Linked DNA regions of Homo sapiens: region 2 is linked to region 1. The links come from fine-mapping of genetic effects on plasma protein levels. Region 1 holds a variant in brackets. A gene starts in the other region. All regions are shown on their forward strands. Region 1 holds the start of LOC105372262 (a long non-coding RNA gene). Region 2 holds the start of ITGAM (integrin subunit alpha M).

Evidence for each region. PIP is the posterior inclusion probability: the model's chance that the variant is causal. The UK Biobank Pharma Proteomics Project read protein levels with antibody pairs (Olink). The fine-mapping took linkage between variants from a reference panel, not from the people measured, so its PIPs are less certain.
Region 2: ITGAM starts here. The variant in region 1 is fine-mapped to the plasma level of the ITGAM protein (UK Biobank, PIP above 0.99).

What each region holds. Positions count from the first base shown.
Region 1 is chr19:7,702,823-7,712,609 of GRCh38, forward strand. LOC105372262 (a long non-coding RNA gene) reads right to left here and starts at 4,412. Exons shown (of 5, transcript XR_936296.2): 1 at 4,156-4,412; 2 at 3,423-3,672; 3 at 2,995-3,114; 4 at 1,970-2,080; 5 at 258-299. RefSeq lists an enhancer at 2,674-2,743. The variant G/C (reference allele first, on the strand shown) is at 4,465.
Region 2 is chr16:31,250,789-31,260,499 of GRCh38, forward strand. It overlaps ITGAM (integrin subunit alpha M), which reads left to right and starts at 9,187. Exons shown (of 30, transcript NM_000632.4): 1 at 9,187-9,304. The coding sequence starts at 9,277. RefSeq lists an enhancer at 8,944-9,043.

The DNA.
Region 1 (9,787 bases):
CTGGACAACATAGCAAGCCGTTGTCTCTACAAAAACTATAAAAACTAGCAGGGCATGGTGGTGCATGCCTGTGATCCCAGCTACTGGGGAGGCAGAGGTGAGTGGATCACTTGAGCCCAGGAGTTCAAGATCAGCCTGGGCAACACAGTGAGATGAAAGAAAGAAAGAGAGAGAGAAAGAGAGAGAGAGAGACCGGGCACAGTGGCTCACGCCTGTAATCCCAGCACTTTGGGAGGCCGAGGCAGGTGGATCATCTGAGGTCAGGAGTTCAAGGCCAACATGGTGAAACCCTGTATCTACTGAAAATACAAAAAAAAAAAAAAAAAAAAAAAAATTAGCTGGGCATGGTGGTGGGCACCTGTAATCCTAGCTACTCGGGAGGCTGAGGCAGGAGAATCGCTTGAATCCGGGAGGCAGAGGTTGCGGTGAGCCGAGATCGCGCCATTGCATTCCAGCCTGGGCAACAAAAGCTAAACTCTGTCTCACAAAAAAAAAAAAGAAAAGAAAAAAGAAAGAAAAACAGAAAAGAAACACCAAACTCCATCCCAGCCCCATCCTGGAACTAAGACTTCATCCCCATGTCCTCACAACATGGCCCAGCTGGACTTATTCCCAAGCTTCCTCCTCCTTCTCCTCGTGTGTCCCCATTGGTGGGACAGTCCGTCCATCCACCCAGACACCCCGGCCCAGGTCCAGGCCTTGTCCAAGCACTTCCCGATCTTCCACCCCACCGCTCACCCAGCACCCGCGCCTGGCTCGTCTCAAAAAAATAACCTGCTTCTCCCCATCCCCACAGCTGCTCCCTCTTCCCCCTGGACCAGGTGACATCCCCCTCTTAGGGTTCCCCCTGCCTGGTTTGCCTTGTCCCTGGGACTGCCTCCTCCATGGCCTCCCCACTCTCATCCTGCCCCCATGACAGCCTTCCCTGGGGCTCTACCTCCTGTCTTGCCCCCCAAAACAGACCCTCCAGGGTCCTCACTCCCACCTGGCCACCACGGCAGACCCCCCCTTAGGATCCCCAACCCGACCTGCCCTCAAGACTAATCCCCCAGTGACCCCACCCTGGCTTGGCCTCAAATGCTGTCCCTATGTCCACTCAGCAGCCCCCAGCCACCTCTCCAATGCTCAGCGGCCAACTCTTTCCCTTCCTTTTTGATTTTTTTTCTTTTTTTGAGACAGAGTCTTGCTGTGTCATCCAGGCTGGAGTACAGTGGCATGATCTCAGCTCCCCATAACCTCTGCCTCCCCGGATTCAAGTGATTCTCCTGCCTCAGCCTCCCAAGTACCTGGGATTACAGGCACGCGCCACTACACCTGGCTAATTTTTTGTATTTGTAGTAGAGATGGGGTTTCACCAAGTTGACCAGGCTGGTCTTGAACTCCTGGTCTCAAGTGATCCACCCACGTCGGCTTCCCGAAGTGTTGGGATTACAGGCATGAGCCACCGCACCCGGACCCTCCCTCACTTCTTTACCATCTTGGTCCTCGGCCATTACCCCAGATCAAGGTGGAGGGGACATTTTGGGACCCAAAATGAACAGCCTCAGACCACCAGAGTCAGTCATTCACTCAACAGGCATGCACCAAGGGTCACTCGGTCCAGGGTGACAGACAAGGCAGCATGGTCCCAGCTGTTCTGGAGTGCAGGGTCCAGGGGACATTTCAGCCAGGCCCCTCCCTGACACAGTGGGAACGTCCAGCCCTAGTGGATGGCCCAGCCCAGCCCCCTCCTGGTTGGGAGGTGGGTTGTAGGGGCACAGGGGGGTGTCTTCTGGAGTGAGAGACATGGGAGGTAGCCCACCCAGGAGTGGGGATTTGGAGTTCCCCAGTTGAGAGTGGGGAGGGTGTTAAGGATCAGGGGACACATTTTGGGAAGGATGAGGAGGGTGGGCAAAGTGCCAAGGGGTCTTAGTATATAGAAGTCTAGGTGGCATAGTGGCTAGGGCTGCAGATGCCTGACCCACACTACCTGTGTTCAAATTCCTGGTTCTTCCATTGAAGTGCTGTGTGACCTTTGGCAAGTCACCTAACCTCTCTGTGCTTCACATAAGGCAGCATTGATCACCAAAGCATCTAATTCCTAGGGTGGTGGTGAAAATTAGATGTGTTAATATGCACACAAGTCACTAAGAACTGTGTCCGGCTGGGCGTGGTGGCTCATACCTGTCATCCCAACACTTTGGGAGGCTGAGGCGAGTAGATCACCTGAGGTCAGGAGTTTGAGACCAGCCTGGCCAACACAGTGAAACCCCGTCTCTACCGAAAAGTGCAAAAATTAGCCAGAAGTGGTTCCAGGTGCCTGTAATCCCAGCTACTCGGGAGGCTGAGGCAGGAGAATTGCTTGAACCTGGGAGGCGGAAGTTGCAGTGAGCTGAGATTGCGCCATTGCACTCCAGCCTGGGCGATCCCAAAAAACAAACAAACAAACAAATTCCTGTGCCCAGCAACCATTGCTACTAAATTAAACTATACAACAAAATTGTCCATATTTTTTTTTAGAGACAGGGTCTCGCTCTGTCTCCCAGGCTGGAGTGCAGTGGTGCGATCTCGGCTCACTGCAGCCTCAACCTCCTGAGGTTCAAGAGATCCTCCTACTTTCTCCTCCTGAGTAGCTGGGACCACAGGCACGCACCACCACGCCTGGTTAATTTTTTAAATTTTTGGTAGCGATGGGGTCTCACTATGTTGCCCAGGCTGGTCTCAAACTCCTGGGCTCAAGTGATCCTCCTGCCTCAGCCTCCCAAAGTGCTGGGATTACAGGCATGAGTCACTGTGCCCAGCTGGAATTTGGTGTTTCTGAGTTCTACAAGCCCAGGTGCCCCAGCCCAACCCCACCGGCCCCATCATGTCCTTCCCAGGGGTGAAAGCCCCCTGCCTGCTGGGTTCCTGCCAAGACTCAGCTCAAACACTAGGATGCTTTGGGGCCCCAAGGACCCAGTCACGGGACTGCCCCACCCGCTTCCCCTCTGCGGTATTAATACGCCTCTTGCTCACTTCGGGGGAAAAACAGAAAATTGTGCGGATGTGGGCCCCAGATCTGTGGGTGTCGGTTCTTCTTTCAGATTTGGGATCCTCTGCATGTTGGGGGAGGCCGCGTCTCGCTCCTCGTTTGACCTAGGTCAGAATTCAACAGGAAGGAGTTTAGGGTGTCCAGCAACAACAACCCTCAACCATCTCCAGCTGAGCTCTCATCCCAGCCCCGGCCCTGACCGTAACCCCAGCTCAACTACAACTTGATCCCCTCACCCCACGATGCTCTGATCCCAGCCCTAACCTCTGCTCTGCACAGGACGGAGGCACGTCCGCGGCTCTAATCACAGAACCCCCACACCTGGGACAGGGCCTGGCGCTGTGTCCCAACGAGATGGAGCCTGGCGACCCTGACTCTAACCCCATCCCGACACAGCCCTGGGCTTTCCTACCTGTTTAACCTCTCCTGGGGTTACGAAGGGGAGAAGGAAAGGGTGCAGGGGTGGGGAGGAAGGGCAGTAGGTGTGTCAAATCCAGGGGGGCTTCCAGGAGGAGGTGTGTTCAAAGCTGGGTCTCTCCCACCCTGCACTGTTGACTTTGGGACTGATGATTCCTCGCTGGGATGCTGTCCTGTGCATTGTTGGATGTTTAGAAGCATCTCTGGCCACTAGTCGCCGAAAGAGTCACCGTGGTTGAGAAGCGCTGCTTTGAAAACATGATTCCTAGATCACGCTTTATTTTGTTTTCATTGTGGCAAAATATACATAACATAAAATTTACCATCGTAGCCATTTCTAAGTGCACCATTCAGGAGCATGAAACACATTCACACTGTTGTGCAACCATTACCACCATCCGTCTCCGGAACTTTCTCATCTTCCCAAACTGAAACCGTGTCCCCATGAAACACTCACTCCCTATTTACCCAACTCCAGCCCCCATGAGAGCTCCCCTTAGGGTCCTCACCCCCACCAGACCTTCATGACAGCCTCCTTTAGGGTCTCCCTGAAACCCCTCCTCTGTGTCTTCCCTGAACGGCAACCACCTGCCCATATCTTCTCTCTGCCTACAACCATCCATGGCTCCCTTCTGCCCTGGGCCCAAAGCTCCAGCTTCCCATGTCCTGGAGTTCAAGGGTCCTGCCTGCTCAGGCCTGGCAGCTGGTCTCTCCAGCCACGCCCATACCTCTTCCTCCAAGACTCCACAGAGTGCCTTAACTTCACACAGTTCTGAAACACCAGGCTGTCTCCAAGCCTTCGCACGGGCAGCTGCTGCCTAAAGTGCTGAGCCAACCCACAGCACCAATTTGTATGGAAGCCTCCCTGCCACCCATAGTCCTAAGGCCCCCTCTTTTCCCAGCCTTGAGCTCCTGCACTGGATGGGCCCCTCCTGGGACTGGGGGCTCCCCAGGGGCAGGACCTATGCCCCACTCCTAGAAGGGCCAGGAGGGCGGCCCTGAATCACAGTCACATGCACCCCTTTCCCTCCGCTTCC[G/C]GACCCCCACTCAGGCAGAGAGCCAGTCAACAGGAAGAGGAAAGGGGTGTGTGGGATGAGAAGAGCCTGGATGTGCACTTTTGTCTTCCGGGAACCTCGGGATCTGGAGCCCAAACCTAGGCTGTTTTTTTGGTGTGGATTGTGGCAGTGGGGTGGGGAGAGCTTGGGGGCACTGGTATGTGTGGCTGGGAGTCCTCAGGCTAAGAGGGGACGCAGAGATGGGGTTGTCCACACCCTTCCCTCCAGAGGGCCCCCCAGAACTCCAGGAGGGGGGTCCTGGACCACTCATTGCCTCCCTGCCCCCTCCCCTCAAGGCCCCAGGATACTTCTAGGGACCAGAGAGCTGAGCCAGCAGGTCCTGAGGCTTCTGAGAGCAGCCCAGGCCCAGCCTGGGAGATTTGGGGATTTCTTTCCAAGAACGCCCTCAGAGACTCTGAAATCCTGGACTCCGGGCTCCACCCTCACAGACCCGGGGCTTCAACTTCCTGGAGACCCAGGAAGCCAGGCCCCCAGACCCCACCCTCAGGGACTCAGGCTCAGTTCCCTAAGGATCAGGAAGACAGGCCCCCAAACCCCATCTTCAGGAACTCAAATTCCCAGCCCTTCAGGGACCCAGGAGGTTGGGACTCCAGCCTCTCAATCCCTGAGAGACCAAAGCCTCCAGCCCCATAGGGACCCAGGAAGCCAGGCCCCAAGACCCCATCCTCAGGGACCCAGGCTTAGCCTCTTTTTTTTTTTTTTGAGATGGAGTCTCACTCTGTCGCCCAGGCTGGAGTGCAGTGGCGCGATCTCCGCTCACTGCAACCTCCACCTCCCAGGTTCAGGCGACTCTCCTGCCTTAGCCTCCCGAGTAGCTGGGATTACAGTCACCCACGACCACACCGAGCTAATTTTTGTATTTTTAGTAGAGATGGGGTTTCACCAAGTTGGCCAGGCTGGTCTTGAACTCCTGACCTCAGGTGATCCGCCCACCTCGACCTCCCAAAGTGCTGGGATTACAGGCGTGAGTGAGGCTTAATATCTTAAAGACCCAGGAATCCAGGCCTCCAGACCTCATCCTCAGGGACCCAGGCCCCCAGACCCCCTAGGGACTTTGGTGTGGGATCGTGTGTTTTTCTCCTCCGTCCCTGCTGATCTCATGCCGGTTTCTGGGTCTGCCAGGACAGTGGCGGGTGCTGCTGCTTTGCTGGACACACCTGGTCACTGCCACCACTGTGTAACCCCTGATGTGGGTAACTAAAGGCCATGGGTTCCCAGCCCAGCTGCACCCCTTTACCTGCTGTGTGACTTAATCCTCTCTGGGCCCCAGTTTCCTCATCTGTAAAATGGGGATAACCTCGTCTGTAAAATCTCTCACATAGGTTGCTGTGTGCGTAAAGCCTTCAGCCCAATGCCAGATATAGGGAGGCTCTAAAAATGGGAGCATTTTTAGTGCAATTTCCTGAAAAATATCTCTCACATAATTAAGCAGCTCCCAATCCGGCAGCCAGCAAGGCCCTGTGTGGCTGACACCTTCTCCTCTGTATTGCCCCCTCTGTATGCCCCTCCAGTGACAATGGCCTGCCTTTCTGTTTTATTTTTGGAGAGATGGTCTCACTCTGTTGCCCAGGCTGGAGTGCAGTGCAGTGGTATGATCACGGCTCACTGCATCCTTGACCTCCTGGGCTCAGGCGATCCTCCCACCTCAGCCTCCTGAGTAGCTTGGACCACAGGCACATGCCACCTGCCTAGCTAATTTTAAAATTATTTTGTAGGCCGGGTGTGGTGGTTCACGCCTGTAATCCCAGCACTTTTGGAGGCCGAGGTGGGCGGGTCACGAGGTCAGGAGATCGAGACCATCCCAGCCAACATGGTGAAACCCCATCTCCACTAAAAATACAAAAATTAGCTGGGCATGGTGACATATGCCTGTAATCCCAGCTACTCGGGAGGCTGAGGCAGGAGAATCACTTGAACCCAGGAGGCAGAGGTTGCAGTGAGCCGAGATCGTGCCACTGCACTCCAGCCTGGCAACAGAGCAAGATCTCCACCTCAAAAAAAAAAAAAATTGTTTTCTTGTAGAGACGAGGGTCTCGCTATGTTGCCCAGGCTGGTCCCCAGCTACCGGCCTTAAGCAATCCTCCTGCCTCGGCTTCCCAAAGCGTTGGGATTACAGGCATGAGCCCACATGTCCTGCTCTTCCTTCATCTTCACAGCCAGAAGCACAGCCTCTTCCAATCTCTCTCTGACTCTCATCCTCCTGCCTCCTCTTGTAAGGACTCTGTGATGACATTGGGCCACCTGGATAATCCAGAGTGATCTCCCATCTCAAGACCCTTAACGTAATTCCATCTGCAGAGCCCCATTTGCCATGTAAGGTAAACTGTTCACAGGTTCCCGGGATTAGAATGTGGACATCTTTGGGGAGGTGTTACTCAGCTGACCACTATACCCTAGGAGACAGATGTTGTTATTATTATTATTATTTGTTTTTGAGAGGAGTCTCGCTCTATTGCCCAGGCTGGAGTGCAGTGGCCTGATCTCGGCTCACTGCAGCCTCCGTGTCCCAGGTTCAAGCGATTCTCATGCCTCAGCCTTCACAGTAGCTGGGACTACAGGCATGCACCACCATGCCCGGCTAATTTTTGGTAGAGACGGGGTTTCCCTATGTTGGCCAGGCTGGTCTCGAACTCCTGGCCTCAAATAATCCACCCGCCTCAGCCTCCCAAAGTACTGGGGTTACAGGAGTGAGCCACCGTGCCCGGCCCAAACTCTGGGCTTTTTGTTGGCATCTGCTACATTCATCCTTTTGAGCTGTGTCTGACTCTGGGGACACGGGAAAGGTAAGAATCCTCATGGGGTTTGGGGGACAGGCCTGACGAGGAGACTCTGTCTGCCCCCGCTTCTTTGGAGAGCACCCTGGGGACTTCCCCACACTCCCCAGCCTTCCTAGGAAGAAGCCCTCGGGATCTGAGGGGGTTTCCTGGGATCAGGGGGAGAGGGGTGGGAGGCTGATAAGAACAGACTACTCTGTCTGAAAGACATGACTTTGGAAAGTGGGATCACCATGGAGCTGCTCTATCCAGGAAACCCTAGCTGGGCTCCAAGGTCACCAGCAATTTGCTGACCGAGCCCCAGAGAGAGTTGCCCTGTGGTCACTCAGGGGGCTAGTGGTGGGGACACCCCGTAAAAAGAATCAGGGAGTGGCTGGAAGGTGCCCCTCTCTGCCTCCATGCCCTGCTTTCCAGCACAAACCCCCATTGGTCTCTTCAGGGCAGAGCCTACTTTCTCTCCCTGTACCCCACTCCCCAGGCCGGAAATGCCGTGGAGGGGGAATTGCTTTTCCAGAATTGTTCATGTCAGACCTCACCACGTGGGCACACCCTCTATCTGTCCTCACCACCTCTTCCTCTCTCTGCCAGACTGTGGGCCCCAGGAGGGCAGCAACCATGACCTGAACCCCAACATTTCACCATGACAATTTTCTTTTCCTTCCTTCCTTCCTTTCTATCTCTCTTTCCCTCCCTCCCTCCTTCCCTCCCTGCCTCCTTTCTTTCTTCCTTTCTTTCCTTTTTCTTTCTTTTCTTTTCTTTTTTCTTTCTTCCTTTCCTTTCCTTACCTTACCTTATGTTACCTTTCCTTTCTTTTCTTTTCTTTTCTTTCGTCAGTCTCGCTGTGTCGCCCAGGCTGGAGTGCAATGGCATGATCTCGGCTCACTGCAACCTCTGCTTCTCAGGTTTAAGTAATTCTCCTGCCTCAGCCTCCTGAGTAGCTGGGATTACAGGCATGCACCACCACGCCCAGCTAATTTTTGTATTTTTTCGTAGAGATGCAGTTTTGCCATGTTGGCCAGGCTGGTCTCGAACTCCTGACTTCAGGTGGTCCACCTGTCTTGGCCTCCCAAAGTGCTGGGATTACAGGCGTGAGCCACCGCACCCAGCCAAATTTTTCTTTTTTCTTTTTTTTCTAATTAAAATTTTTTTTTTTTGGCCAGGAATGGTGGCTCACACCTGTAATCTCAGTGCTTTGGGAGGCCAAGGCAGGAGGATGACTTGAGGCCGGGTGTTCAAGACCAGCCTAGGCAACATAGCAAGACACCCATCTCTACAAAAAACAAAAACAAAAACAAAATAGCTAAGCATGGTGGTGTGTGCCTGTAGTTCCAGCTACTCGGAAGGCTGAGGTAGGAGGATCACTTGAGCCCAGGAGGTCAAGGCTGCAGTGAGTTACAATGGCACCACTGCATTCCAGCCTCGATGACAGAGTGAAACTCTATCTCAGAAAAAGTTTTTTAAAAAATATTTTTATTTTTAGGACTAAGTTTCTGTCTGGTCGGACAGGACAGATGGGGTACACATAAGAAGGCCCTTTCGTATTTTTAGTAGAGACGGGGTTTCACCGTTTTAGCCGGGATGGTCTCGATCTCCTGACCTCGTGATCCGCCCGCCTCGGCCTCCCAAAGTGCCTTTTTTTTTTTTTTAAGATGGATTTTACTCTGTCACCCAGGCTGGAGTGCAATGGCACCATCATAGCCCACTGCAACCTCCCAACTCCTGGGCTCAAGGGATCCTCCCACCTCAGCCTCCTGAGTACCTTGGGACTATAGGCATGTGCCACCACATCCAGCTAATTAAAAAAACTTTTTTGTTTTTTTTTGAGATGGAGTCTCACTCTGTCACCAGGCTGGAGTGCAGTGGCACGATCTCGGCTCACTGCAACCTCTGCCTCCTGGGTTCAAGCAATTCTCCTGCCTCAGCCTCCCAAGTAGCTGGGACTACAGGCACACGCCACCAGACCTGGCTAATTTTTTGTATTTTTAGTAGAGACAGAGTTTCACCATGTTGGCCGGCATGGTCTCGATCTCCTGACCTTGTGATCTGCCCGCTTCGGCCTCCCAACGTGCTAGTATTACAGGTGTGCCCCGCACCTGGCCTTGTTGTTGTAGAGACAAATCTCGCTCTGTTGCCCAGGCTGGTCTCCAACTCTTAGCTTCAAGTGGTCCTCACACCTCAGGCCTCCCAAAATCGTGAGATTACAGGCGTGAGCAGCCACGGGCTAATTTTTGTATTTTTAATAGAGACCGGGTTTCACCGTGTTGGCCAGGCTGGTTTCAAACTCTTGACCTCAGGTGATCCACCCACCTTGGCCTCCCAAAGTGCTGGGATTACAGGCGTGAGCCACTGCACCTGGCTGTAACTTTTTTTTTTAGCCAAAATTATGTGAACATATTTGTTACCAGAGGCAGGTGGTGGTGGGCGGGGTGGGGCGGGGACTGGGGAGATGGTGGCCAAAGGATACAACATTTCAGTGACAGGAGGAACAAGTTCAAGAGATCTATTGTACA
Region 2 (9,711 bases), not on the chromosome of region 1:
CGTCTTTGACCAGGCGGATGAAGACAAAACCCTCAGGATGGCAGAGCAACCTGCTGGAGGGAGCCTGGATCTCCAACACCATGGAGCCTCCGTAACCCCCAAATGCTGATGCTGGGGCCATCACAGGACTGTCTGGGCTAAGCCTCTGTGATTTTGGGTCTTATTACAACAGTTGAACCTTAGTCTCCACCAATACAAATAATCATCTTTGCCGGTGGGGGCGCATCTTACATGCCAGGCACTGTGCTAAGCTTTTCACATGCATTATTTAATTTAACCCTTACAAAAACTCTGTTAAGTCACACATCAGTTAGGGCCTTTTGGGGAAAAACAACAGAACAAGTAGAACATGAGATTTACTGAGTACCAAGTAGCCTATTCCAGGAATTAGTAGTTTTGTTTCCTGCCCTGCTCAGGTTAGGCCCTGAGCAACTCCTCCTTTCAAGGTTGGGAGGCAAGAACTTAGAGATGGTGAAATGGCTGTCGCTGCCCTGCAAGTCACCTGTGGCCAACCATGCTCTTTGTGTGACCTTGGTCGAAACACCTGGGACTCACAAAGCCTGTGGTAGAACAATTTCCTTGGCCTGCCAGACATTTGGCCTGCTGCATGGACAACTGAGGTGGCAAGGGAAGCATCCAGAATGCTTCCCACTGAGCGACAGGCAGCTTTCAGCCACCTACCTCTGTGTGTCATCGAGGGTGCGCTGGCCAGGTCATCCATCAACCCAACACAGTTGGTAGAATGATTACAGCGAATGTTGACTACATGCACTTTGACATCTATTATTATCTCATTTAACTATCACAATCACCCCAAGATGTTAGTACAATTATTGCCCCCATTTTCCAGATGAGGACAGTGAGGTCCAGAGAGTAAGTTGTTCAAGGGCATACTTATAGACCTAGGATATTTTTATTCTTTTTTTTTTTTTTTCTGAGATGAGATCTTGCTCTGTTGCCCAGGCTGGAGGGCAGTGGTGTGATCTTGGCTCATTGCAATCTCCGCCTCCTGGGTTCAAGTGATTTTCTTGCCTCAGCCTCCTGAGTAGCTGGGATTACAGGCATGTGCCACCATTCCCGGCTAATTTTTGTATTTTTGGTAGAGACAGGGTTTCGCTATATTGTCCAGGCTGGTTTCAAACTTCTGACTTCAGGTGATCCACCTGCCTCAGCCTCCCAAAGTGCTGGGATTACAGGTGTGAGCCACCACACCCGGCGTAGACCTAGGATTTTAGTGCCCTTAGTCTGATTCCAGACCCAAAGGCTTAACCAGATGGCTGAGGATGACACTCAGGTGGAACTTTTTTTTCTTACTTTTTTTTTTTTTTAAGACAGGGTCTCGCTGTGTTGCCCAAGCTGGAGTGCGGTGGTGCAATCAGCTCACTGCAGCCTCAATCTCCTGGGCTCAAGTGATTCTCCCACCTCAGCCTCCTGGGTAGCTGGGGTTGTCTCACGTGTCCATGTGAAGAGACCACCAAACGGGCTTCGTGTGAGCAACAAGGCTGTTTATTTCACCTGGGTGCAGGCGGGCTGAGTCCGAAAAGAGAGTCAGCAAAGGGTGGTGGATTATCATTAGTTCCTACAGGTTTTGGGATAGGGGGTGAAAAGCCATGTTTTGCGGGCAGGGGTGGATCTCACAAAGTACATTCTCAAGGGTGGGGAGAATTACAAAGAACCTTCTTAAGGGTCGGGGAGATTACAAAGTACCTTCTTAAGGGTGGGGGAGATTACAAAGTACATTGATCAGTTAGGGTGGGACAGAAACAAATCACAATGGTGGAATGTCATCAGTTAAGGCTATTTTCACTTCTTTTGTGGATCTTCAGTTGCTTCAAGCCATCTGGATGTATACATGCAGGTCACAGGGGATATGATGGCTTAGCTTGGGCTCAGAGGCCTGACAGGATCACAGGAACTTTTCTTGACAATCCAGTGCAATGGAAAAACAGTATTTTATTCTTGTTCTTCCCACAACTTTCTCAGGAGGGCGGATCCTGTAGCAAGTTTCTTCGAGTGTGGTGAGCGAAGCAAATTGGAGGAGCTCAGACGGAGATAATTTGTCTGTGTAGACAAGGAAGGAAATTTGGAGAGGTGGGACTGGGAGATTTTGTTGGGAAGAGAGAAGCCGTGACCCTGGGTGCTGTGCAGGAAAAGGGACGATGAAGACCTGATACCTTCATTCCCCTGAGAGCAAAACTGGAAAATGTTGAGGAATGTGGCAAAGAAGGTTTGCGAAGTTGAGTATAGAGAGTCATGTGATGCAAAACCCACTTGTTTGAAGGAGGTGGGCCAGTGAGCCTGCCGATCCCTGGGGGAAGATTGGTTCCATCAGAGGGAACAGCCAGTGCCATGGCCTTCAGGTGGTGGTGTGCCTGGCAGGTTTGAGGAATGGCAAGGAGGCCAGGGTGGCTGCTGTCCCAGAAAATGAGGTAAGCTCAGAGAGGTAAGGGCTGGGGTTGGGATGACAGGTCATGCAGGTCCTTGTAGGTTGTAGAAAGGACTGGCTTTTACTATCAGTAACGTGGGAGCCTTTGCAAGGTTTTGAGCAGAGGAGTGGCATGATATGTCTTGTGTTTTGAAACAATCCCTCTGACTGCTGTACTGAAAATTGACTTCGGCTGGGCACGGTGGCTCACGCATGTAATGCCAGCACTTTGGGAGGCTGAGGTGGGAGGATGGCTTGAGGCTAGGAGTTTGAGACCAGCCTAGGCAACTTAGTGAGACCCCGTCTCTACAAAAAGATTGAAAAATTACCTGGACATGGGGGCGCATGCCTGTAGTACCAGCTATTTAGGAGGCTGAGGTGGGAGGATCATTTGAACCCAGGAGTTGGAAAAAAGAAAAAAGGCAGTCAAAGGACTGAGCTCTGAGATCCTTCTGAAGAGGTTGGGAGAAGAGGAGAATCAGCAAGAGAAACTGAGAAGGAGGGTCATGGGCGGTAGGCGGGAAGCAGGAGAGTGTGGGGTCAGAGGACAGATGTAGAAATCAGTTCCAGGAAGCGAGGGCCGAGTGTCAGAAGCTGCTGCTGAGTCACTCAAGATGAAGACAGAACTCATCACTGGAGTCACTCAGGCAGCCTTGGTGACCTTGATAAAAATAGTTTAGGTGGAGTAGGTGCCGGGTTGGAGCACAGGCTTGGTTGGAATGGGGTTAAGGGAGGATGTGAGCAGTAGAACAGGGTGCAGCCAACACAGACAACTACTTTGGAGAAGTTTTGCAAAAGGGAAGTAAAAAATGGGCAGTGGTTGATGAGGGGAGTGGAATCAAAGAAAGTCTTGTTTGCTTTTTCAGTAGGAGAAATGTATTGTTTCTGATGGGAACACCAGATTTCTACATACGTATTTTGTATTCTTTCCGAGGGTCTTATATACTTATTCCAGAGCCAACACTGTACTTTTACCTACTGTGGCTTTAGAATATTGCTTTGATAGGGTACTTGTTATGGAATAACATGACATTGTAAGGTATGTCCCATTGCTTTATAGGCTATTGCTGTGTGTTTTCTAGTCCAGTCAATTTTTGAATCAGCACGTCAAATTCTAGAAAAATTCTGCTGGGTGAGATTATAATGAATTTGAGTAATTAAATGGAGAACCGACATCTGTACTGACATCTGTAGTCTTGTAGTCTTGTCATCCATGAAGATGACATATCTCTCTATTCTTTTTTTTTTTTTTTTTTTTTTTTTTTTTGAGATGGAGTGTTGCTCTGTTGCCCAGGCTGGAGTGTGGTGGCACAATCTCAGTTCACTGAAACCTCTGCCTCCCGGGTACAAGCAATTCTCATGCCTCAGCCTCCCGAGCAGCTGGGATTACAGGCATGCACCATGATGCCCAGCTAATTTTTGTATTTTTTGTAGAGATGGGATTTCACCATGTTGGCCAGGCTGGTCTCAAACTCCTGGCCTCAAGTGATCCACCCACTTCAGCCTCCCAAAGTGCTAGGATTACAGGCGTGAGCCACTGCACCAGGTCAATAATCTTTTTTTTTTTTTTTTTTTTTTTTTTTTTTGAGGATGAAGTCTTGCTCTGTTGCCCAGGCTGGAGTGCAGTGGCATGATCTCGGCTCACTGCAACCTCCACCTCCCGGGTTCCTAGCATTCTCCTGTCTCAGCCACCCGAGTAGCTGGGACTACAGGCGCATGCCACCATGTCTGGCTAATTTTTGTATTTTTAGCAGAGACGGGTTTTGCCATGTTGGCCAGGCTGGTCTCGAACTCCTGATCTCAGGTGATCCACCCACATCAGCCTCCCAAAGTGCTGGGATTACAAACGTGAGCCATCATGCCCGGCCAGTAATTTGTTTAATTACATATCTTTTATAAGCTCTTTCTTTCTTCCTTCTTTTTTTTTTTGAGACAAGGTCTCACTCTGTTGCCCAGGCTGGAGTGCAGTAGTGTGATCATGGCTCACTGCAGCCTCCAACACTTGGGCTCAAAATGTCCAAGGGACATTTTGCGAAGTGCGTTTTCAGGGAGATAGTTTGATTTCCCACACCTGTTTGATACATATTAATGTTTAATTAATTAATTATTTATTTAATTAAAAAAATTTAAGAGACGGGGTCTTATTATGTTGCCCAGGCTAGAGTACAGTGTATGGTGGCATGATCATAGCTCACTGCAACCTCGACCCCTTGGGTGCAAGTGATCCTCCTGCCTCAGCTTCCTGAGTAGCTGGGACTACATGTGCATACCACCACACTAGATAATTAAAAAAAAATTTTTTTTAAGAGACAGAATCTTCCTATGTTGCCCAGGTTGGTCTTGAACTCCTGGGCTCAAGCGATCCTCCCACTCTGGACTCCCAAAGTGCTGGTATTACAGGCAGTGAGCCATTGTGCCTGGCATTAGCTCCTTCTTTTCCTCACTTTCCCACCAGTGTTTCCGGAATCACCTTCCAGATAAATTACTTACACTTGAAGCCTTGTCTCAGAGTCCACTTATAGGGGAAATCAAGCTAAGATTTTATCAAGAGTGGGGATGGGGGACAGGTAGGAGGGAACAGCCAACAGCTTATAGATATGTCCCCACCCACGGTCACCAGGTCAGGTGCACACTTGGTGGTGGCTCATTGAGAAAGCCTCTGCAGGTTGGACAGCCAGTCTGAGATCTTGCCTATGTTTTTACAGAGAGTGGACCCTTGGCCACTGTTCAGGGCAAGGAGGGGCCTCCACGTCTGAGTTCGAGCAGCCCCCATAGTGGCCAGAGTGTGAAAACTTTTCCCAAAGCAAACCCAGCTGATCTACTAAACTCCTCCCCGGGCACCCTGGTTGGTATCTTCTCATCTTGGGCTCATGACTTCGTTCGTCCTTTCCTCAGCTTCTTTACCTGCTAACAAATACAGGTAACCTGTTGTTTTAAATTATCTATTGGTATTTTTTATGATTATGAGTCTTTTTTTTGTATAAAGGTCTTTTTTTTTTTTCTCTTTGAGACATGGTCTTGCTCTGTTGCCCAGGCTGGAGTGCAGTGTTGAGGTCATAGCTCACTGTAGCCTCAAACTCCTGGGCTCAAGTGATCCTCTTGCCTTGGCCTCCCACAGCATTGGGATCACAGGCATGAGCCACTGCACCCAGCCTATATAAATATTTTAAGTACAAATGATATAGAAAAGAATATTAAAGTCATCTTGTAGCAGATTGAATACAACCACAAATTCCTCCCATTGGGAGGTGGGATCTGTGTCCCCTTTGCTTGAATGTGGATGAGCTCTGTGACTGCCTGATCAATGGAATGTGGTGCAGATGACTTGGCGCCAGTTTCCAGATCAAGACCTTAGTAGCCTGGAAATTTCTGCTTCCTGTCTGTTGGAACACTTGCTCTTGAAGTCCAGCCACCATGCTGCGAGAAGCCCAAGCCACATGGAGAGGGCACGTGGGGGTGCCCAGGTGACAGCCCCAACTGAGCTCCTAGCCCACGGCCAACTGCCAGCTGTGGGAGTGACCCATTTTGGGAGCCCAGCCCAACTGAGCTTTGGATTACTCTAGCCCTGGTTGTGATCCGACTGCAATCATGTGAGAGACCCCGCTGAGAACTGCTGAGGCCAGGAGATTCACAGATACGCGAGAGATTATAATATGCTGCTGTTTTTAACTATGAAGTTTTGGAGTAGCTCGCTCTGCAGCAATAGATACTGGAACATACCTGTAATCCTCCTATCTTGGAGATAACGACTATTAACATTTGGTTTTCCTGCATATATATATATATATATATATATATATATATATATATATATATATGATTTATTTTTGTATGTATGTACTTATTTATTTAATTTTAATTTTTTATTTTTTGAAACTGAGTCAAGCTCTATTGCCCAGGCTGGAGTGCAATGGTGCAATCTCAGCTCACTGCAACCTCCACCTCCCAGGTTCAAGTGATTCTCCTGCCTCAGCCTCCCAAGTAACTAGGATTACAGGTGCCTGCCACCACGCCTGGCTAATTGTTGTATTTTTAGTAGAGATGGGGTTTCACCATGTTGGCCAGGCTGGTCTTGAACTCCTAATCTCAGGTGATCCTCCCACCTCAGCCTCCCGAAGTGCTGGGATTACAGGCGTGCCTGTATATATTACATGCCCTGCCTATATATATTTTAGAGACAGGGTCTGGCTCTGTTTTCCAGGCTGGAGTGCAGTGGTGCAATCATATCTCACTGCAGCCTCAACCTCCTTGGCTCAAGCGATCCTCCCACCTCAGCCTGTTGAGTAGCTGGGACCACAGGTGTGCATCACTATGCCCAGCTAATTTTTAAACATTTTTTTGTAGAGTCAGGGTCTTGCTGTGTTGCCCAGGCTGGTCTTGAGTTCCTGAGCTCAAATGATCCCTCTGCCTTGGCCTCCCAATGTGCTGAGATTACAAGCAGGAGTCACCACACCTGGCTATATATAAAAATTATAAACAGATAATTTTTAACCAAATGTACATAATTTTAATTGCTTTTTTTTTTTTCAGCCAGCAAGCATTTTTTTCCATCTAGTTATCGGGAAAGTAGAACTAGAGGCAAAAGAAAATGTGTTGAATGGTGAAACCCTGTCTCTACTGAAAATACAAAAAATTAGCCAGGCGTGGTGGCAAGCACCTGTATTCTCAGCTACTCGGGAGGCTGAGGCAGGAGAATCACTTGAACTCGGGAGGCAGAGGTTGCAGTGAGCTGAGATCACGCCACTGCACTCCAGCCTGGGCGACAGAGGGAGACTCCGTTTCACAAAAAAAAAAAAAAAAAAAAAAAGAAAATGTGTTGAGAAAGAGTGAAAAAAATCATTGGCTTGAGAATCACATTGGCGGTCACATAAAGGTGAGGTTTGTGTTCCATGTATGTGTGGAAGGATACCTATTTTCCTGTGCCTTTGAAAACAGAATTAAAAGTGACAGACACAGGGGAGGGTAAGGATATATCACAGAGTGAAGTATCATTGAACCATTCCTCTGTTGAATATTCAGGTTTTTTTAGCTTTTCATATTAACAATAATGCTGCAATGAACAAGCTTGCAAATATATATATATATATATATTTTTTTTTTTTTAGAGATAAGAGTCTTGCTCTGTCGCCTAGGCTGGAGTGCAGTGGCACAATCTCTGCTCACTGCAACCTCCGCCTCCAGGGTTCAAGTGATTCTGCTGCCTCAGCCTCCCAGGTGGGATTACAGGTGCCTGCCACCACGCCTGGCTAATTTTTTTGTCTTTTTAGTAAAGATGAGGTTTCACCATGTTGGGCAGGCTGGTTTCAATTGCTGACCTCAAGTGAGCCACCCCGCCTCAGCCTCCCAAAATGCTAGGATTACAGGCATGAGCCACCGCACCCAGCCAAGTTTGTACATATATTTTTGACTACACTTCTTAACTATTCTTAGGATAAATTACTAGAAGTGAAAATTCTTGGGTGAAGAGCTTGAGGCCTTTACACACACACACACACACACACACAAAAATAGGCTGGATGCAGTGGCTCACACCTGTAATCTCAGCAGTTTGGGAGGCTGAGGAAGGAGGATCACTTGAGTCCAGGAGGTTGAGAATAGCCTGAACAACATAGCAAGATCTTGTCTCTACAAAAAATTTAAAAAAAATTAGCTGGCCATGGCAGCATGTGCCTGTAGTACCAGCTACTCGGAAGGCTGAGGTAGGAGGATCGCTTGAGCCCAGGAGGTTGATTGAAGCTGCAGTGAGCTGTGATTACACCACTGCACTCCAGCCTGGGCAACAGAGCTAGACTCTGTCTCTAAAAAAAGCACAAAATAATATTTAAAAAGCACCAGGTATGCCTGTACTTGAGTTGTCTTTGTTGATGGCTACAAATGAGGACAGCTCTGGCTGAAGGGCGCTTCCATTTCCATGGGCTGAAGGAGGGACATTTTGCAAAGTGTGTTTTCAGGAAGACACAGAGTTTTACCTCCTACACTTGTTTGATCTGTATTAATGTTTGCTTATTTATTTATTTAATTTTTTTTTTGAGACAGAGTCTCACTCTGTCACCTGGGCTGGAGTGCAGTGGCATTATTGAGGCTCATTGCAGTCTCAGACTCCTGAGCTCAAACAATCCTCCTGCCTCAGCCTCTGGAGTAGCTAGGACTACAGGCATGTGCCACCATGCCTGGCTAATTTTTTAAATGTATTTTTTTGTAGAGTCGGGGTCTCCCTATGTTGCCCAGGCTGGAGTGCAGTGGTGTGATCCTAGCTCACTGCAGCCTGGACCTCGGGCTCAAGTAATTCTCACACCTCAGCCTGTCCAGTAGCAGGGGCTACAGGCGCGCACCACCATGCCCAGCTAATTAAAAATATTTTTTTGTAGAGACAGGGTCTCTCTATGTTGCCCAGGCTGGTTTCAAACTCCCAGGCTCAAGCAATCCTCCTGCCTTGGCCTCCCAAAGTGCTGGCATTACAGGCGTGAGCCACTGCGCCTGGCCCGTATTAATGTTTAGAACACGAATTCCAGGAGGCAGGCTAAGTCTGTTCAGCTTGTTCATATGCTTGGGCCAACCCAAGAAACAAGTGGGTGACAAATGGCACCTTTTGGATAGTGGTATTGACTTTGAAAGTTTGGGTCAGGAAGCTGGGGAGGAAGGGTGGGCAGGCTGTGGGCAGTCCTGGGCGGAAGACCAGGCAGGGCTATGTGCTCACTGAGCCTCCGCCCTCTTCCTTTGAATCTCTGATAGACTTCTGCCTCCTACTTCTCCTTTTCTGCCCTTCTTTGCTTTGGTGGCTTCCTTGTGGTTCCTCAGTGGTGCCTGCAACCCCTGGTTCACCTCCTTCCAGGTTCTGGCTCCTTCCAGCCATGGCTCTCAGAGTCCTTCTGTTAACAGGTGCATGGGGGTGGGGTGGGGGACTCTGGGTGGGGAGGAGGGTAACTTTTGGGTCTGTCATAAATAGAGGGCCCAGAATATGTAGGAGTCAGTCTGGGGAGAGGCAAAGGGGATTTGGGGAAGGAGAAAGGGTTCAAGAAGAAGCAGGGAGAACAGCTAGACCCAGACAGGCTGGCCAGGGAAGCCTGGATGAATGACCACATTCATGGACTGTGCAAGGCTGCTTGCCGGTCCCCTTGCTTCACACATGAGGAGACGGAGGCCCAGGGAGGAGAAGTGACATGGCTCAGGGTGCGCAGCAGGTGTGAGACCCCTTTCCTGAGTGCTTCCTCCTGGATCCCCTCTCACCATCTCCACTTTGCCTCCGGTTCTATTTTCCAAGGTCCCGGGTGCAAATGTTTGTTGAA